Regions from separate parts of the Homo sapiens genome. Here region 2 is linked to region 1. The links come from fine-mapping of genetic effects on gene expression. Tissue or cell type: testis. Region 1 holds a variant in brackets; the other region holds the start of a gene. All regions are shown on one strand. Distances are from middle to middle.

Region 1 (11,839 bases):
TACATGATTGCGATTGTAAAGGAGATGACAGAGAAATAGTTTAGCAATATACATGCTTGCCAAATGTTCAAGCTCCTTTGTAACATTTATGATGCTATAAGCAGTGATAATATTGTACAACATATAGCTGTCAAGGATGGGGCATCAAACATGACCATCAGTGATAGGACCCAAAATGTGGCATCATATATGGTTGCCAAGGAAATTTGGAGTGATAGTGTAGCATACATAGTTGTCTAAGACATACAGATGCAAACGTATGAGAGCACAATCCACAATTATCATGTTTATCATTGCAGACACATGGCAGCTTTTTATATGATCATCAAGGAGATAACCCAGAATATGCCATCCTACATGATTAACAGGTAGGGGATGACAGCAGTATAGCTTATGTATGGTTTTCAACAAGGTGACACAGACATAGGGAAACATTTTTGTTTTCAAGGAAATGAAGAATACAAATGAAGCAGAATAGGCGGTCATCACTGAGATGACAAACACAAAGTGTAGCAATGTCCAGACCTCCAGTGATATGAAACAGACATACTAGACAGTGCAGCATTATATATGATCATCAAGAAGATAAGGAACACAGCATGTAGCATACCATATTGTTGACAGCAGATGACACAGGCATAGTTTAGCATCACGTCCAGTGATCAAAGAGATGAACACACCGGATAACATCAAACATGATTACCAAGAACGTGACATAACTCGGGCGGCTGAGGCAGGAGAATCGCTTGAACCTGGGAGGCGCAGGTTGCAGTGAGCCAAGATCGTGCCACTGCACTCCAGCCTGGGCGACAGAGCGAGACTCCATCTCAAAGAAAAAAAGAAAAAGAGAAAGAAGGTGACATAGATATAGCATAACATCATACATGTTGACCATGGAGATGAGGCAGAATGTAACATTATACTTGGTTCCAGAAAAGACAATGTACACACATAAGTCAGTATAGTATGGTATGGTATGGCATAGAAGAGTAGAGCATAGCGTAGCACAGTATAGACACACAGACACAGCACAGAGCCAAATATTGTTGTCATGAAAGGATCTATACATAGTGAAGCAGGATATATGGTCATGAGAAAGATGAATCAGATAGTATAGGGGCATAAGTGTCAGAGAGATGGCACATATGTAATGTAGCTGCCATTTGTGGTCATCAGGGAGATGATGTAGACATAGTGTAATCTCATAAAGGTCCTAAAGAGAGGTAAGAGATAAGATAGCATCACATGTGGATATCAGGGATATAACACATACGTTATACAGCATCATATGTGGTAGTCAGAAAGATGATACAGAAAGTACATGTGGTTATCAAGGCAATGACACAGACATAGTGGAGAAATTATAAGTTGTTGCCAAGGAGAGGATGAAAACATGTTCTTACAAATAAAATGATCATCAGGGAGACAAAGTAAATATATTATAGCATCATCCTTAAATAACTAGGCCATGTCACCCATAAGGTATAGCACAGCCCTTTGTATAGGGCATGATGAAGTTACAGTGTAATATAAGTGGTTTCAAGAAGATGATAAAAACATAAAATAATATGCAGTTGTCAGGCAGAAGCAGCAAACACACAGTATGTCATATGTGCTATTATATGCTGAATTGTGTCCTTTTAAAATTCATATGTTGAAGTCCTAATTCACAATATCTCAGAATGTAATATATATATAATATATATAATCATGTATAATTTTATATATACACATGTGTATATATACACATGTATATATGTATATATGCTTATACATACACGTGTATATATGTATATATACACGTGTATATGTGTATATACACGTGTATATATGTATATATGTATATATACACATATGTATGTATATATACACATATATATGTATGTGTATACATATATATATAACTATACATGATTCTTAAATATATGCAAGCATAGTATAGTTTCATCCATTGCCAAAAACATGATGAGACATAGTATAGCTTCATATACAATTGTCAAGGATATGGCTCAAAAAATAGTATAAGCTTACTTAGGTTGTCAGAGAGATAATGCAGATATAGGGCGGTGTTATATGTTATCAGGGAGATGACACATAGCATAGTTTCATACAAGACATCAGGGTCTCATGGATGATTGGATGCAGAAAAAAAGTATCTGGGTGATGACACATAATTTTGTGTCATATGAAGATACCATGGATTCGACACAGATATGTTGTAATGTCACAGGTGCTTATCATGAAAATGAAGCAGACATACTGCAGCATCATAAATAGTAGTCAGGGAAATGATGCAAAAATATTGTATCATCATACCCTGTTTTCCAAATGGCATGGACATAGTGTAGTATCATATTTGTAGGTCCTGGAGATTAATTGTAGCCTAGTGTAATAAATGGTTATTATGAATATGATGCCGAAATAGTATAAAGTAACATATAGCATCTTATGGGGTTGTTAAAGGGGTGATATAGTAATAATATAACATCACACATCATTGTCCAATACATTTCAAATAATGTAACACCACATATGGCTGTCTAGAATATGAGGGGTGTGTGTGTGTGTGTGTGTGTGTGTGTGTTCATCCACAAATATATTCATCAAGAAGATGGGGTCTCACTCTGTCACTCAGACTGGATTATAGTGGCATAATCATAGTTCGCTGTAACCTTGAACTCCTCCTGGGCTCAGGTTATTTTCCTCAGCTTACTGAGTAGTTAGGTCTACAGGTGCATGCCACCACACCTGACTAATTTTTGTTTTAATTAGCTAATTTTTGTTTAATTTTGTAGAGATGGGGTCTCACTATGTTGCCCAGGCTCATCTCAAACTCCTGGCCTCAAGCGATCCTCCAATCTTGGCCTCCCGAAGTGTTGAAATAACAGGCATGAGCCACCACACCTGGCCATGATGCATATATTATATAGCATCATACATGATCATCAAGGAAATTGTCATAGTACAATATCATATATGACTATCAAAGAATAAGGTACGCATAACACATGTTTTAGGATACCTCAGAAACATCACGATGTTGTATTTGGTTGTCAGGGAGATGATGCAGATGTAGTATAATGTCATATGTGGGTAACAGGATATACACACACAGTGCGGCATTGTGATGGTTAATTTTATGTGTCAACTTGACTGTGTTAAGGGATACCCACGTGGCTGGTAAAACATTGTTTCTGGGTGTGTCTGTGAGGATGTTAGACTGAGTAAATAAGAGCCACCCTCACCAATGTGGGCAGGCATCATCCAATCCATTGAGGACCCAGATACAACAAAAGGTGGAGGAAGGATGAAATTCTCTCTTCTGGAGCTGGGACATCCATCTTCTCTGGCCCTCGGTCATCGAGCTTCTGGTTCTCAGATCCCCAGACTCCAAGACTGACACCAGTGCCCTCCTCAGTTCTCTCAAGTTTTTGGCCTCAGACTAAGAGTTACACCATTGGTCCCCCCAAGTTTTTAGGTTTTCAGACTTACACTGAATTATACCACTGACTTTCCTGATTCTCCAGCTTGCAGATGGCATATGGCAAGACTTCTCAGCCTTCATATATAAATATGTGTGTGTGTATACTTATATAATATTGGTTATATACTATATATATGTGTGTGTGTATTTATATACTATTGGTTATATACTATATATACTATAAACAGAATTATATACATAGTATATATAGTGTAATACATATAAATATATAATATATAAAAATGTACAAATATATAATATAAAAAATACATAAAATTATATATAGTATAAAACAGAACCAATAGGAGACAGACAGACAGACAGATAGATAGATAGATAGATAGATAGATAGATAGATAGATAATATCACCACCTTTCTAAAGGTGGTGATGTGATATAGTGGACCCTGCAGACATGTTGGCCAGGGCAATGAGGTATAAATACTATAGCATCATACATGGATTTCTAAGAAATACTAAGATATGGAATAGTATCATATATGGTTATAAATAATTGGATAAAGATACAGTATAGTATCATACATTATTATAAAGAGGATAAAAACAGTGTAAATTAAACATAGTCAGATACATGACATAGATACAATATAGCATCATATGTGGTCATCAGATAGATAACAGACTTGGTGTAGCTTCACACGTGGTCATCAGGTAGATGGTATCGATGTAGTTTAGCATCATCTGTATCTTCAGGAAGATGACACATAGTTCATACTTCAAATTCTATGCCTCACAGAATAGCATCACGCATGGTATGTGATGTCGATATGACATAGACTTAGTATAGCATCACATATGCTTGCCAAGGAGACATAGGATGATGGAGACATAGTATAGTACCATGTGGTTATCAAGGATATGGTGTAGACATAGTTTAGTGTAAAATAGGAAATTGTCAGGGAGATAATGTAGAAATTGTATAGTGTTAACACATGTTTTTCAGGAATATGCTGCAGACATAGAGTAGCATCATAAATACTTGCCAGGGAAATAGTGCAGACACAATGAATCATCACATATGTTTGTCAAAGAGATGACACATAATATAACATCATATATGGTTGTCATGGGAATGACTTGTTGTTCAGTATCATAAAATGTTATCCAGGACATGATGCATGCATAGTACACCAACACAGATGGTC[G/A]TCACTGAGATAATAAAAACATCATATAGCATTGCATGTGGCTTCAACGAGATGACGTGGACAGAGTGTTAGTATCATACATATTTGTCAGCAAGATGATCATGGTTTTGCATCATATATGATTATCAAGGATATGATGCAGATATGGCCCAGCATCAAATGTGGTTTTAAAGGAGTAGATGAAAACACAGTATAGCATAATATGCAACTTTCAACAAGATGATGCAGATACAGTGTAGAAATAAACATGATCCTTAGGCGATAAGACAGACACAATATCATGTCACATGTGAGCAACAGGGAGATGACAGATATAGTGTAGTGTCACATGTGACTGTCACAGGATTGAAGCACACCTAGGATAGCACTATATATGGTTATCAATAAGATGACACATAGTGTAGAATCACAGTGGTAATCAAAGAGACAATGTATAGCATAGCATCATGTATGCTTATCACAAAGATGCAGTAGACATAGCGGAACAGCACATGTGGTTATAGTAAAGGAGATTATAGCACCATTGATGGTAATTAAGTTGACAAGGCCAACATAGGGTAACATCATATGTAATCATCAGGGAAGCTGGGCACGGTGGCTCACGCCTGTAATCCCAGCATTTTGGGAGGCCAAGGCAGGTGGATCATCTGAGGTCAGGAGTTCGAGACCAGCCTGGCCAACATGGAGAAACCCCGTCTCTACTAAAAATACAAAAATTAGCCAGGCATGGTGGTGCATGCCTGTATTCCCAGCTACTCGGGAGGCTGAGGCAGGAAAATTACTTGAGCCTGGGAGGCGGAGGTTGCGTTGAGCCGAGATCGCACCACTGCACTGCAGCCTGGGCAACAGAGTGAGACTCCATCTCAAAATAATAATAATAATAAAAATCAGGGAGATGACCCAGAATATAGCATCATATACAGATATTAAGAAGATGACAAAGACCTCATATACCTCGTTATGTAGGAGGTGACACAGACATTGCATAACATTACATGTGGTTATCAGGTATATGATATAGACACACTATTGTGCCATACATGGTCACGATAGAGATGAGACATGGTTTTTTATCATAGCTGGTCATCAAAGAAATGACCCATAGTGTAGAATTATGCATGGTTATCAAGCAAAGCATAAATCTCTCCAAAAATTAAAAGAATGAACAGATCACCTACCATCAGCTGAAGCAGTTGCAATAAGCTTTCCAGTGTAATCAAAGCAGCTGTCTAGTATTTCATCATCATGGCCTGTTAAGGTTGCCACACATTTTCCATTTGTAGCATCCCACAGCTACAATTAAAAGAACAAAAAACAAAAAAAAAAAGACTATGACTTTCTGTCTGAAGTGTGAAGATGGCCAGTGGTCTTCATGACATGCTTATGGCTGGTTAAATAACTGTGCAAAAATCACTTGTGTAATTCATGCATGTTCAGTTAGATTTACTTTGATTCATGACCAGAGACCACAGCCAACCATCAAGCAAGGCACACTCTAGTCACAGAGAAAACCAAAGTCAGACATTTAGAATCTGCCACTACATTAAAGAAAGAAAAAATATCTCAACGTGTATGCTTTACTGGTTGGTGAAGAGTTGTGCTCTTTTTATAGGAAGGACATCAAATGATTAGGAGCTTGATATAAAACTACAATGTCAGAAAATGGAAAGTACATTATAAGATTATATTTGTTACATAAACAAATGATAATTCCATAGTATAATCTCTTAGTAACCATTTTTTAAGTATAGAAACTTAGGGACAAGGAAACACTGTGTTTGAGGCTCCTTGAGGGTCACTCTACTAATTGAAGTTCTATAAATGAACAGTGGGATATTAAATAAAAATAAAATGCCTTCTCAAATAAGATATTTAATATACTTGAAGCAATTCAAATTGCTTTACTACATCACAATTCCTTCAAATTTGGAAAATCCAAAACTAGAAATTTTAAAAATTACCAACTATTTTTTGTAAATTAATATCTTAATTTTATATCATCTTTGAAATCTGTTAATGTTACAATGGATATCTGACACAGTAAAGAGTATAGACACAATATAAAGCAAAGATATTTATTTATTTTGCTCACCTTGCAGGTTTTGTCCATAGAGCCAGTTAATATTAGAGAGCAATCCCAATTGAATGAGGCACTGCTAATCTCAGCACAATGACCAATTAAGATATTTACCTTCCTACAACACAAAAATAATTAAAACTAGTGAAAGATATCTTACTTCAGTATATGCACATGAATAATGAGGCCAAGCCCATCTGTGTAAGCTAATCTAAAATCTGGTTTTTACAAAATAATATATTTGATGACAAATATGGCTCTACTATTGCTCAAAAAGAAGCTACCAATAATTTCATTTCAGCCGGGCACGGTGGCTCACGCTTGTAACCCCAGCACTCTGTGAGGCCGAGGCAGGTGGATCCACGAGATCAGGAGATAGAGACCATCCTGGCTAACACAGTGAAGCCCCGTCTCTACTAAAAATACAAAAAATTAGCCAGGCGTGGTGGTGGGCGCCTGTAGTCCCTGCTAATCGGGAGGCTGAAGCAGGAGAATGGCGTGAACCCAGGAAGCGGAGCTTGCAGTGAGCCGAGATCACGCCACTGCACTCCAGCCTGGGCAACAGAGCGAGACTCCGTCTCAAAAACTAACTAACTAAATAAATAATTTCATTTCAACAAAAATGTACTTAGATTTTAAACTATCAAAATAATGCTACTTAAGGCAACATTTCAAAAAGACATGGGTAACAAATAGTAAAGGCCGTAAGAAGTAGTCTTACACCGGGTGAGTGCACCCCTGGTTGTTCAGAAACTACACATCAAGTAACTGAAAGGTCCTTCTTCCTCTATCATTTCTTGTTGCATACATCTTGGTTGGCACCCCTGATAATTAGCCCCTCTATTAAATCACAGACAAATCCAAGAGTAGAGTTTTCCAACACAAATATGCTAATTTAGTTAACTTCCTAGCAACTAGGACCAAAAATCATTAGGAAGGAAATTGAAGTTCTTGGACTAAATTAATTTGGGAAATTAACTAAGAGTTTTTATTTATACATGATATTCCTGCCTAACATAATGACAAGCCATTGAAATCTGATTATCCATGAAATAAATAATAGCTATATAACCAGACTATTGCTAACATTCTCCTTTTATGTTGCTGTTTGTCATTATTTGCTCAGAATTCAAAGAATGCACATATTTTGTGAATCAGAAATATCATTAAAGAATGAATTAATTTACATTTTCAATATGTCCTATTTTTATGGAATCCAAAGCAGAGTTAATAGATAGTAGCTTAAACTAAAAAATAACAGAGGGTTTTCTGAACCCCCTGATCCAGGTTAAAACAATTCTTAAGAACTAAGAATTACCTTCCAGTATCAGCGTCCCACACTACAACGGTATGATCAAAAGACCCCGTGATGATTCTGTCTCCTGAGGTGTTAAATGACAAGGAGATGATTTCGGCAGAATGTCCCTAGAAAAAGAGCAGATACTGTCAAGTATACCTGCAGATAAAACAATTTCTGCAAGCGTACAATATCATAGTCTAAAAGGAAATGCTGGAGAAGGCCGAGCTCTAGGAACGGAGGTCAGCGGTTGGCTGGGGTGAGGATGGGGAGTGTCTGCACGTGGGCACAGGGTTCTTTTTGGGGTGATGGAAAGGTTTGAAAACTAGGTTTTGGTAATGGCTGCACAATACTGTGAGTTTACTAAAAATTAGTGACTTACACACAGCTAGTTCATTTAACTTAATAATATTGATTAAAAACAAAAGAAAGAGGTTGTATTTGGGGAAACTAGAGGACGTCCTTTACACTGCCTTGGAAACACTACAGAGCAGGGGATGCCATGGGCTAATAACACATGGTATGCAAAAGTAAACAGTGTATGAAATAAAACTAATTACTTTTAAAAAGGAAATTATTAAGATAACTTGACATGAAATCGATTGATAAATTCCTGCCTTTGGCCTGACTTTCAGCTGGTTACTGTCTAGTGTTAGTGAATCAAACTGTAAGATAATGGGAAGAAACCACTCTCCACAGCAGATTCTGGAACTCTGATAAGGGGATCCTGGTTGGAGTACATATATCCCTTGATTCCTTCATTATTTTAGTAAATTAACATAAGTATACTTTTAAATAATACAAAGAATTAGAAAAGTTGAATTATAACTTGATTTTTCTGATTGATTTCAAAGGACAAAATGAAATGTAGTTGAATATTCGAATTCTAAGTACGCAAAACAAATTCACTCTCTGGCGCAGACAGGTGTGCCAAGCAGGACCCCTCCCATTGAGTGCTCTTAGGCACGTCTGTAAAAGGAGTCATTTTAGTTGAAAGTGTGGCATTAATGGGGACCTTTCCCTGCACATTTGCCTGAAGGAAGAGATAGTAATGATTTAAAAAAAAAACGAAAAAAGAACTGAGAACAGAAAGAGTATACTTACACTAATAATGCTAGATACTCAGATTTAAGAAAGAAAAGCCATTACTGTTATTTTAAAATGGTGATTTTTTTTCTTTTGCAGTCCATGTTTTAACTTGCTTAGAAAAAGCTTTCTGAGGAAACAAATCATGTTTTTAAAAATGTACTTATAATTTTGAAAGGACAAGGAAACTGAATTTCCCATCTGGCTGTTCCTGCTGATTACAACATAGGGTCACTCTAGTTTTGTTGCAGTGACTTGGGCTGGGGTGGGAGGAAGGGGAGGGTGGGAGGAAGGGGAGGGTGGGAGGAAGGGGAGGGTGGGAGGAAGGGGAGAGTGACAGATGGCGGGGAGGTGCTGGGCACATGGTGGTGACACACAAGAGCATGCCCCACAGCACTCACTCTGTGGGCAGAGCCCTTTGGCCTTTTCCCCTCTGGTCACTTGCCCCTCTGTCATTTCAGACTTTTGTGATACAGGATGGCTGAAAGACCAGCGGGCAGAGGAGAGTGTGCTCACAGTCATTGCTCTAAGGATTCTCTTGTCATGGTTCTCCAGTTCTGCCTCTTCCAAAAGTGCCAGCCTCCACCTGCTTTCCTTTTAGCCAGAGAGATGGTGATGGGTTCTAAGATATAGTTTATGTGTTTTGCAGACTAAAGTTAGTCAAAATAAAAAGCTCCTTGGACTTCCCCAGCACCTCCACCCAAGTCTTTTGGAATAGCCAGGAAACCAGTAGGGACACTCTTTCACCACTAAAATTTGAAAACCAGCAACTCAACAACCTCCAACTTAGAGCTCATTTTGTAACAAAAACACAAATAAGAATGAACACAAATAACAGGCTTATTAACATTATTGACATACTCTTAAGGTGTAAACTTCCTCGCCATTCTGAATGTCCCACAATTTGGCTGTTGTGTCCATACTTCCAGTCGCCACCAATGTGCTTTGAGGGTTAAATGATAAACACACCTAAATTACATAAAATGGGAGAAATTTTAGGAAGACAGAGTTTCAAAGTGTTAATTATACACAGAAAATCTTCCAGATGCAATTACCTTACCAGATTCCATCTAATTCTTTGTACAAAACCCCACGTATGTGTGACCTGCTACCCCCAGGTTGAGTCCTTCAGAGTCCTCCTCTTGAAAAGAGGCTGCTTGTTCTCCCACAGCACCCAGCTAAGGCTTGGAGGGGCACTAGCTCCCTTTGCCACTTCCAGACCACAGAAGAACAAGAACAAAAGTGAAGCCCACCTCCTTTAAGATCCGTGCTATATGGCTCTCCTTCTCCTTGCTGCTGTCACCACAGTCCTTCCAATCACAGCCCCTCACTCATCAAGAGACTACTGGCTTGTAGTCTCAATGCCAAGTCTTAGGTGGCCTTCACGTGGGCAATCCATCCAGTTCCCCCAGACCCATGCCCCGGACAACTGTTCAGTAGTCTCTCCCATGGCCACACCATGGACCTTAGTATTATCTTCTCTAGAAGATTCACCACCAATTCACCAATCCAGGGTCAAAATTTCCCTTCCCACTCCCCTCCCCCAGAAGATCTTTCATCTCATTGAGACATCTGCCTTTTCTCCTGGTCCATCCTCCCCATTCAACTGACACCCCGGAAGCATCACTCCTCCCAGTATCCTCGACACTGTTAGCCCCTATCTATCTGATGCACCTTCCGTACCAACTGCTAACATTAACTTTTATCAGGCAAGGATTTTATCCAACCACCTGCTTCCCTGCCTCATCACCCAGCCAAGGTAGCTTAAGAGAACAGCACAGAAAGTTACTAGTATTGCTCTTTCATGCCTCTGTCCTCAGTAGAGTCCTCAGCACTGTTCCCTACTTTGCTTAAGATGCTTCTGGCTCTATACATTCTCCTGTTCCCCACTCCTGCCTCTACTTCCATCCTCACCCCTCCTCAACAGACAACCTGGCCTCCTTCCACTTCCCTGAGAAAACTCTCCTGTCAGGTAGGAACTTCCTGATCTTACTTTCCTTCCCCTCAGTCTCGGATGTAGAGGCATCCTTCCGCCCATTCTAAGAACCCCTTCCCTGTACACCTAGGGGAGATGCACCCACTAACTTTTCCTTCCCTGTAGACTAGATCCTTTTCAGTGGCCTGTAAATATGTTTGAGTAAATCCTCCCTTGATCTTATGTACCCCTCTTAGCAACTCTTCTTCCTCCTTTACAACCAAATTTCTTGGGAAACAGTCTACCATCATTTTTGTCCATCTTCTGCTCACTCGTCAACTCTTCTGAAACCACTCCAGCTAAATGCCCAATCCAGGTTTGGTCGGTCATCCCGCTTAACCTCCCTGATATCTGCAGCACTGAATCCTTTGTTCTCTAGTTTCCCTCCCTTTCTTCTTGTTTTTCTTTTTTCTTTTTGTATCATTTGAAGTTCTCTCTTCTCCATCCTCCCAAGATTCTGTCAGTCCCTCTCCATACTCTATATTTTCCTCTGGGCAATTTCAATTGCTCATTGGTTTCTACTGCCACCCAGATGCCAGTGACTCATGCATCCAAGTCTCTTTCCCAGACCTCACTGCTCAGTTCCAGTCCCAAAGAGCCAACTGTTAAATGGATGCCTCTGTTTGGCTATCACACAGGCAGCTTATATCAATCTAAGACACAAAAGTCATATAGATGCAAACCTGCTCCTCTTTTATGCACAGAATTGGTGAATGGCACTGCCCATCATGCAAACACAAAATCAGGGAATCCAT
Region 2 (8,419 bases), 37 kb after region 1:
TTAAAGGAAACAGACTATTAGTCTTAATTTTAAATTTTCTATATACTATCTACCTATGCCTAATTTAAATTTCGTAGATACTCTCAGCCTGATGCAGTGGCTCACATCTGTAATCCCAGCACTTTGGGAGTCCAAGACAGGTGGATCACTTGAGGTGAGGAATTCAAGACCAGCCTGGCCAACATGGTGAAACCCCGTCTCTGCTAAAAATACAAAAATTAGCTGGGCTTGGTAGTGCACACCTGTGATTCCAGCTACCTGGGAGGCTAAGGGATGAGAATCATTTGAATCCAAGAGGTGGAGTTGGATTGCACCACTGCACTCCAACCTGGGTGACAGAGCAAGACTCTGTCTCAAAAATTAAATTAATTAATTAATTACATAAAATAAATTTATCTAGATACTGTCATATATATAGCTTTCTCATATTATTTTAACTGGAATTCTATGAAGGAGAAAATGCATGTCTTTTCTACAAATGTCAACTTCCCATTGGAGAAAGTAGCTGTCCAGGATCGGTCTTCCAGGGAGGCAGAAGCAGCATCCCTTAAGATTTTCAGTGTTTATTTTCAGTAATTTCCATACCTGACCTCTCATCAAACACATCCATTTATCCATACATTCATTCAACAAACATTCCTGATCTTCTGTGTCACCAAATCTCTTCTAGAAGCTGAGGGTGCTACAATGATCAAACCACACTAAGATCTTAGTTCTCACGAAGTTTACATTAAATGGGAAAGGGGCAGACATTTGAAACAAAACAAGTAGAGTTTTGGATGATGACAAATATAATTTTTAAGCACTTTATGGCATAGAGTAAAATCAGTGCAGGCTACTTTGAATAGGTAGGAAAGTCTCTTCAGGTGGTTGACATTGATTGAAACTGAATGAAGAAAAGGAAGCAGCTTTTCCTAGCTCTAGGGAAAGCTGGGTCCAAAAAACGAATGAGTGAAAGGCCCTCTCTTAAGTCTTAGAAGAACAAGCTAAAGAAGTCAGAAGTATAGTGAGGGTAGACAAGTGAAGTTTTAGAAGTCAGCAGCACAGAATGAGCCAAATCCCACAGGTTGCGGATCGTATTCTAAGCATGATAGGAAGCTATTGGAGATCTTGAATTCAGATCCCACTGGCTCCTAGTGGCAGATGGATTGTAGGAGATGAGGGTGAAAACCAGGAATCCAGTTGAAAAGCCACTGGAGTGGCTCAGCCAAAGGGAATGGTGGCTGGAATGGAGGGTTGGACTAGGTTGGCAGCTGGAAGGGATGTTAGACCAAGAAATCTGTGCTATGGAAAGAGGGATAATCTGATGGATTCACAGAATATTTTGGACTTAGAGCTGGCAGAATGATAACGGAATGCCGGGGGTTGGGGGGGTGGGGGAGGCAGTGAATGATCACAGGAGAGAAACAAAAAGTGACCACCTAGGTTTCTGGCAAAAAACAGGCTGGGTGATGATGCCTTCTACTGGCAGGGCACAGTTTGAGGAAGCAGCAGGATTGGGATGGGACTGGAAAAAAGAAATCATGAGATCTCTATGCGATACCTCATCGGCGATGTTGACCAAGCAGTTGGATGTGTTGCAGGGAAAAGTGAGATATTCAACCTGAAATTCAAGTCCCACCCCTCATAAAGCTATTCTTAACAAAACCGGTCCAAAGTATCTTACCCTCCTTTGAAATCTTTATGACACTTCCTATCCAAACTTCATTGGGCAAGTGTATTTGGTTATCTTCTGCCTTGTGGTATGTTTTGCAGATTTTTTTCTTTTTTTTCTTTTTTTTTTTTTTTTTGCAGATGTTTCTAATTCAGAAGACGAGTTCTGAATTAGAACCCAAGAATTGCACTCCTATTTCTGTCCCTAAGAAGCTGGGTGATCAATGGGTGTCACTTATTCTTTAAAGGTGACCATGTCCTCACCTAAAATTAGAGTTAGGCAAGGATTAGGTAATTAATGTATTGCTTATGTTACTAAGTAATAGTTAAGTAATTTATTTCATAATTACTTCACTCATTGAAATCAAGCACTATGAACTTCTTTAAAGGTCCATAGCAGAGAGCACAAAGCGTGTACGCAGTAGGCACTCAATAAATGCAGACAGACTGACATGCACAGTCAAGCTAAACTCTTTAAATTCCTAAAAGAGTAATTGTTAATGTTTTGAGGAAGAGTCCAGCATCTGAAGGAATGAGGGGCACAGGTTGGGAAGTGCCCGACTTCCTGCCCCACCTGGGGACCCCGCCGCCTTTCAGTGGCTGCGCCCTCCTCCGCCCCAAACCCTCCCAGTCTGGGAGCCCAGGGTCCCACGTGGGGATGACGGGGCCGGGCTGGTGCGTACCTGGCGGGTAATACCGGAGCAGGAGGCTCTTGAGCTTCATTTTCTTGCTCTCTTATCCCCGGCCGATGGGCTTCGTAGCCTTGGAAACGGCTAAACAGCAGCGGGACGCGGGTGCGCATGCGCAGGTTGCACCGCGCGGTCCTGGGGCGCAGAGCTGGGAGGTCTGGCTCCGCGGGCGGTTGGTGGCGACCCGGGGCTCCGGCGCGCGGGGGGCGAGTGTTCTGGAGGTGTCTAGAGTGAAAGAGGTGAGGGCACCTCGTGTCCTCACTAAGGGCGACCTCAGAGGAGCTAGGCATGGCCGGGAACCGACGGCCTAGGCCACAGCCTGGGCTGCATGCACTTTTTTAGCACACTGCGTTTCCCAAAAGGAAGGCTGGGAGGAAAAGCCCATCGCTAATTACTACTCTAGGGCCCCAGCCCGTGCCCTGTCCTTGTCCTCCCAAAAGAAAAATGACCTCAACTTAATATTTTGCATTTCCTGACTCTGTGCCCTACATTGCTTTAAACGGTGTATGCACACATACTCATACAATCCTAACAAGGTGTGAGTTATGCACCACTTCTTAAGGATGAAGTAACTCAGAATTAGAGAAAGTGGAGAACTACCAGAGGTCGCAGCCTAAATGGATAGGCGGGAATGGAAGGCAGGTGCGTCGGAACCTACACCAGAAAGCCTACACCTGTGCTCTCAACCTGGGCTTAAAACTCTCCAGGCCTTCATGCGGCTTGTCCAATTTCTTGCCAGCATCGTTGTTTGCCTGCCACGTTTCCATGAGAAAGCCTGCGGAGAGACAGAGTCAGCCAACCAGCTTGTCAATTTCCTTTAAGGAATTTGGCCTCAACTGGAATTTCTCAAACTTGAGTCATTCCTGTGTTATCTGCGCAACTATGAGCCATATCTCTCCTTACCTCTTCCAGAGATCCATACCTAAGTTTTAAGTTCTTAAAATGTCTCTAGATTGACTCACTTATTTTACTTCACTTAGTAAAATGTAATCTTAAAAATTACCTTTACTTTTACAGTTACTGGCTGTTTACTGAAAATTATATGAAATTTAATTCCATCTGTGAAGTTTTTATTTCTAAATTTAAAATTATATGAAATTTTCAGTAAACAGCCAGTAACTGTAAAAGTAAAGGCAATTTTTTAAAGGCGTTGAATTGCTTGTTAAAGGCTGAGCCATCGGGAACTTGTGCGTCCATCTCAGGGAGACCTGGCCTTCAGAGATGACAGCATTCAGCCCCAGGAGGAGCCTGCAATTCGTCCTCGGTCTTCCCAGCTTGTGCCCCCCATGGGGATACAGGACAGTAAGGAGCCAAACAGAACCTGCTGCCTGAATGGGGGAACCTGCATGCTGGGGTCCTTTTGTGCCTGCCTCCCCTCCTTCTATGGATGGAACTGTGAGCACGGTGTACGCAAAGAGAATTGTGGGTCTGTGCCCCATGACACCCGGCTGCCCAAGAAGTGTTCCATGTGTAAATGCTGGCACGGGCAGCTCCGCTGCTTTCCTCAGGCATTTCTACCTGGCTGTGATGGCCTTGTGATGGATGAGCACCTCATGGCTCCCAGGACTCCAGAACTACCACCGTCTGCATGCACCACTTTTATATGCTAGCTGGCATCTGCCTTTCTATACAAAGTTACTATTAATTGACATTGACCTATTTCCAGAAATATGATTTTAGATATCATTCAAATTTCATGACCAGTAAAGGCTGCTGCTATAATGTCCTAACTGAAAGATGATCATTTGTTAGTTGCCTTAAAATAATGAATACATTTCCAAAATGGTCTCTAACATTTCCTTGTAGTACCAAATACTTCTTACCTCTTTGCCCTGCCCTCCCCACAAAAACTACTTCTTTTTTCAAAAGAAAGTCAGCCATATCTCCATTGTGCCTAAGTCATGTTTCTTGATACATGTAATTCTACCAAGGTCTTCTTAAAAGTTCTTTTAAACAATTGAATATTATCTTCAGATTATTAAAGACCAATCCTAATGTGGACCTTAGGATACAGTTTTGAGTAGAGTTGATAAAAATCAATTAAAATAGTCTCTTTAAATGGAAAGAAAGCCTCTTTAAGGGGAGGAAACAGAGGGCTGAAGGAATGGAAGTTCATCTGCATGTATGCAGGGAGACTGGGTAGGAAAGAGGAAGCAAATGGGAGAGAGAGGTTGGAAAACATAAAATGGGTTACTTGATGGTGATTAGGTGGGTGTAGAGAAGAAAGTTAAAAGGCTAAATGGAAGGGTAAGTTTCCGTCATCTATAGAAAGCTATATGAGACAAGGACTCCAATTTTTTTCCCAAAGGTGTTGTAAAAAGAATGAAGTCTCCTTATAAAAAAAAAATTATACCTCAATGTCCCCAACAAGACTGCTTAATAAATTATGTTTCCTCCAAGCTATGCAATTCTTTTAACTGTTGTAGAAGAGAAAATGTTCACAATATATTTAGTTGTAAACCAAATGATAAAACTACATATTGTAAAGCCAACTTTTAAAATACATTGTATATATGCGTATGCACAGTAAAAATGGAAAATATATTGACCTAAAGGCATTGAATTACTATATACTACTATATATTACTATATTACTATATACTAATTACTATATACTGCCAAAGACTCTGAACCCAAAACCATCCCTTTCTTTGTAAACAAAGGAAGGAAGAAAGGAAAGAAAGAGGGAGGGAGGGAGGGAGGAAGGGAAGGAAGGAAATTAGCAACTGTTTGAGATTGTTAAGACAGGCTACAAGACGGAATAGCACTCAACTGAGCCTTCCTACTTGATGTGTTCAGAAGATTGAAAAGATTGTTGAGATGGCAAAGCCTTTGCTACTAAGTGACACAATTTAACCCAATATAAATGTGCAAAAAAAAAATCATCTTTTTCTCACCAGTAGTAAGCATCCCATACTTGGAAAACAGGGAACCGTATGAAATCCAAGCTCTCTCCCAGCTCAAACTTTCTCCTAGCCACTAAGACACTCTGGAAGGACTTATGGAGGGAGGGGCAAAGAGTTTGCTCTATAGAAATGAGAAAGTCTTTGGTAGATTTTGGTCACCTATGTTATTGCTTGTGCTCATGCCATTTAAAATGTGATCTTTGGGTGGGGCACCCATTTAAAACGTGATCTTTGGGTGGGGCACGGTGGCTCTTACCTATAATCCCAACACTTTGGGAGGCCAAGTTAGGAGGATTGCTTGAACCCAGGAGTTCAAGACCAGCCTAGGCAACAAGGCAAGATCCGGTCTCTACAAAAAAATTAATTAGCTGGGTGTGGTACATGCCCCTATTGTCCCAGCTACTCAGGAGGCTGAGGTGAAAGGATCACTTGAGTCAGGGAGGACATCACCAATAGTGGGACAAACTGACATATATTACCTGGTATTACGATGCACTGAAGAGAACACAGCAAAGCCGGGTGCAGTGGCTCATGCCTGTAATCCCAGCACTTTGGGAGGCCAAGGTGGGCAGATCATAAGGTCAGGAGATCGAGACCATCCTGGCCAACATGGTGAAACCGCATCTCTACTAAAAATACAAAAATTAGCTGGGCGTGGTGGAACGTGCCTGTAATCTCAGCTACTCTGGAGGCTGAGGCAGGAGAATTGCTTGTACCAGGGAGTCGGAGGTTGCAGTGGGCCGAGATCGTGCCACTGCACTGCAGCCTGGCAACAGAGCAAGACTCTGTTAAAAAAAAAAACAAAAAACAATAAACAAAAAAAAACAGCAATTCTCTGGAATTCCTGCCCAAAATGAATTACTTGACTCAAATCATAAGGAAACATCGGAGCAAACCAAACTGAGGAAATTGTATAAAATAACTGTTGACAGTCAAGGAAAGAAAACTCTAAAGAAATACTTGAGATTAAATAAATCTAAAAAGGACAACTAAATGCACTGAGTGATGATAGATCCTGAACCAGAATAATAATTACTTACAAAGGGCATCGTTGAGACAATGGATGAACTCTGTATATAGGGATTGTGGTTTAGATAATAGTATTTTATCAGTGTTAAGTTTCTTGACTTTGATCATTGTACTGGTTATGTAAGAGAATGTCCTTGTTCTTAGGAAAAGTATACTGATTTATTTCAAAATAAAAGGGCATGCTGGCACCCTGATCTCAGACTTCCAGCCTCCAGAACTGTGAGGAAGAAGTTTCTATTGTTTGTGAGCCACCCAGTCAACGGTACTTGTTATGGAAGCCTGAACTAAGACATTCCCACCAGGACCTGCCTTGAACAACCAGAAACTAAATAATGAGTAGCAGTAATTTTAATCTCCTAAACCAATCCAGGCTAATACAGTGAAGTCACTCTAGGCTTCAGTTCTCCAAGCATGGTTCCCGGACCAGCAGGGTCAGTATCACTTAGGAATTCATCAGCAATGTACATTTTCGCCTCCCCCGAGTCCCGACCTACTGAATCAGAAACACTGATGGTGAAGTCCAACAACCCATGTTTAAATGTGCTTTCCTGGTGATTCTAGTGAATGATGAAGCTTGAGAGCCACTGTGCTAGCTTAATAGGTTACACTGGCTTGGACAGAACGAAGTGAGTGAAATTGGGCTTCATCTCCAATGATCAGGTCTTTCTGTGTATTCCAGGCAGTCTTCCCTGATTGTCAGGAACAGTAAATTGATTGTTCAACCACATCCTCGAATGTAAATGAGAACCAGAAACAACACGGGAAGAAGCTGGAATTTTCTACATAATTGGGTTTCAGATGCTCCAATGCACTGAGAGAGGACAGTGGACATCAGGCTGAGGGAAGAATCAGAAGGTACCTGGGAGGATGGGAGTTGGGGAGGGAGGTAGTCTCTAAAATCAAAATATGTATGGTGGCTCTGGTGGCTCACGCCTGTAATCACAGTGCTTTGGGAGGCCAAGGCAGGAAGACTGCCTGAGCTCAGGAGTTTGAGACCAGCCTGGGCAACAGGGAAAAACCCCATCTCTACAAAATGTACAAAAATTAGCCCAGTGTGGTGGCACTCACCTGTAGTCCAAGCCACTCAGGAGGCTGAGGTGGGAGGATGGCTTGAGCCTAGGAGGCGGTGGTTCAGTGAGCTGAGATCACACCACTGCACTCCAGCCTGGGTGACAGAGCCAGAACCTGTCTCAAAATATATATATATATATATGGATGTAGTATATCTATACATATATATATTTATATTTATAGAGAGAGAGAGAGAAAGAGGAGGAGGAGGAGAAGGAAGAAGGAGTCAGTCCGGGGGATCCAGATTCTGTATTTTTGAGGCTGGGCAAGGTAAGGGAGGAGTAGGGCTTCCGGCTGCGGCTGGGCTTGGTGGATTCCATTTGGCTCAGCTTCTCCTGGAGAAAACCAACTTCAGTGAGATGACTGCATCACTGGTGTTGGAGCCTCACTGAGAGCAGCAGATAAAAAGAGAGATGCAATCCTCTCCTAGAAAGAGAAGGCACAGATGCTCAGAGCCAGGCAGGAGCAGTCTGCTGTGCACAGGGTTTAAAGGTGACCTCATCACAGCAGGCCCCAGAGCGGAGGAACGGCATCAGGGTGGGGGCATGTGGACCAGACATCGCCATTTACCCTCTTCCTCTGCCTGCCTCCATCCCCACAGCAGGACTCAAAAGCATCTGATCTTACCTGGGACTTGAAAACTAACAGGGCCAGGGCCACTAATTGTATCATTCAATAAATGTGTATAAAGGACCTGCTAGTACCAGGCATGCTGCTGTTATAGATCTAATTCTGAAAAATATTGCAAGGGAGTTATTCACAGAAAGAATCAGACTTCGGGTGAGTTTGAAATGATTGTAGGTTGCCAGGTGAGGTGGCTCACGCCTGTGATCCCATCACTTTGGGAGGCCGAGGCGGTGGACCACCTGAGGTCAGGAGTTTGAGACCAGCCTGACCAACGTGGTGGAACCCTGTCTCTACCAAAAGTATAAAATTAGCCGGGCATGATGGCACCTGCCTGTAATCCCAGCTACTTGGGAGGCTGAGGCAGGAGAATCGCTTGAACCAAGGAGGCGGAGGTTGCAGTAAGCTGAGATCATGCCATTGTACTCCAGCATGGGTGACAAGAGC

Evidence for each region. PIP is the estimated chance that this variant, and not a neighbour inherited with it, causes the effect.
Region 2: it holds the start of DAW1, and the variant in region 1 is fine-mapped to the expression of DAW1 in testis (GTEx, PIP above 0.99).

What each region holds. Positions count from the first base shown.
Region 1 is chr2:227,901,241-227,913,079 of GRCh38, reverse strand. It overlaps DAW1 (dynein assembly factor with WD repeats 1), which reads right to left. Exons shown (of 13, transcript NM_178821.3): 7 at 9,971-10,078; 8 at 8,045-8,151; 9 at 6,742-6,844; 10 at 5,828-5,942. Among named protein-coding and RNA genes, the nearest start is that of DAW1, 36 kb to the right of the region's middle. The variant G/A (reference allele first, on the strand shown) is at 4,650.
Region 2 is chr2:227,865,647-227,874,065 of GRCh38, reverse strand. It overlaps DAW1 (dynein assembly factor with WD repeats 1), which reads right to left and starts at 2,435. Exons shown (of 13, transcript NM_178821.3): 1 at 2,337-2,435. The coding sequence starts at 2,376. It also overlaps the pseudogene CRIPTOP2.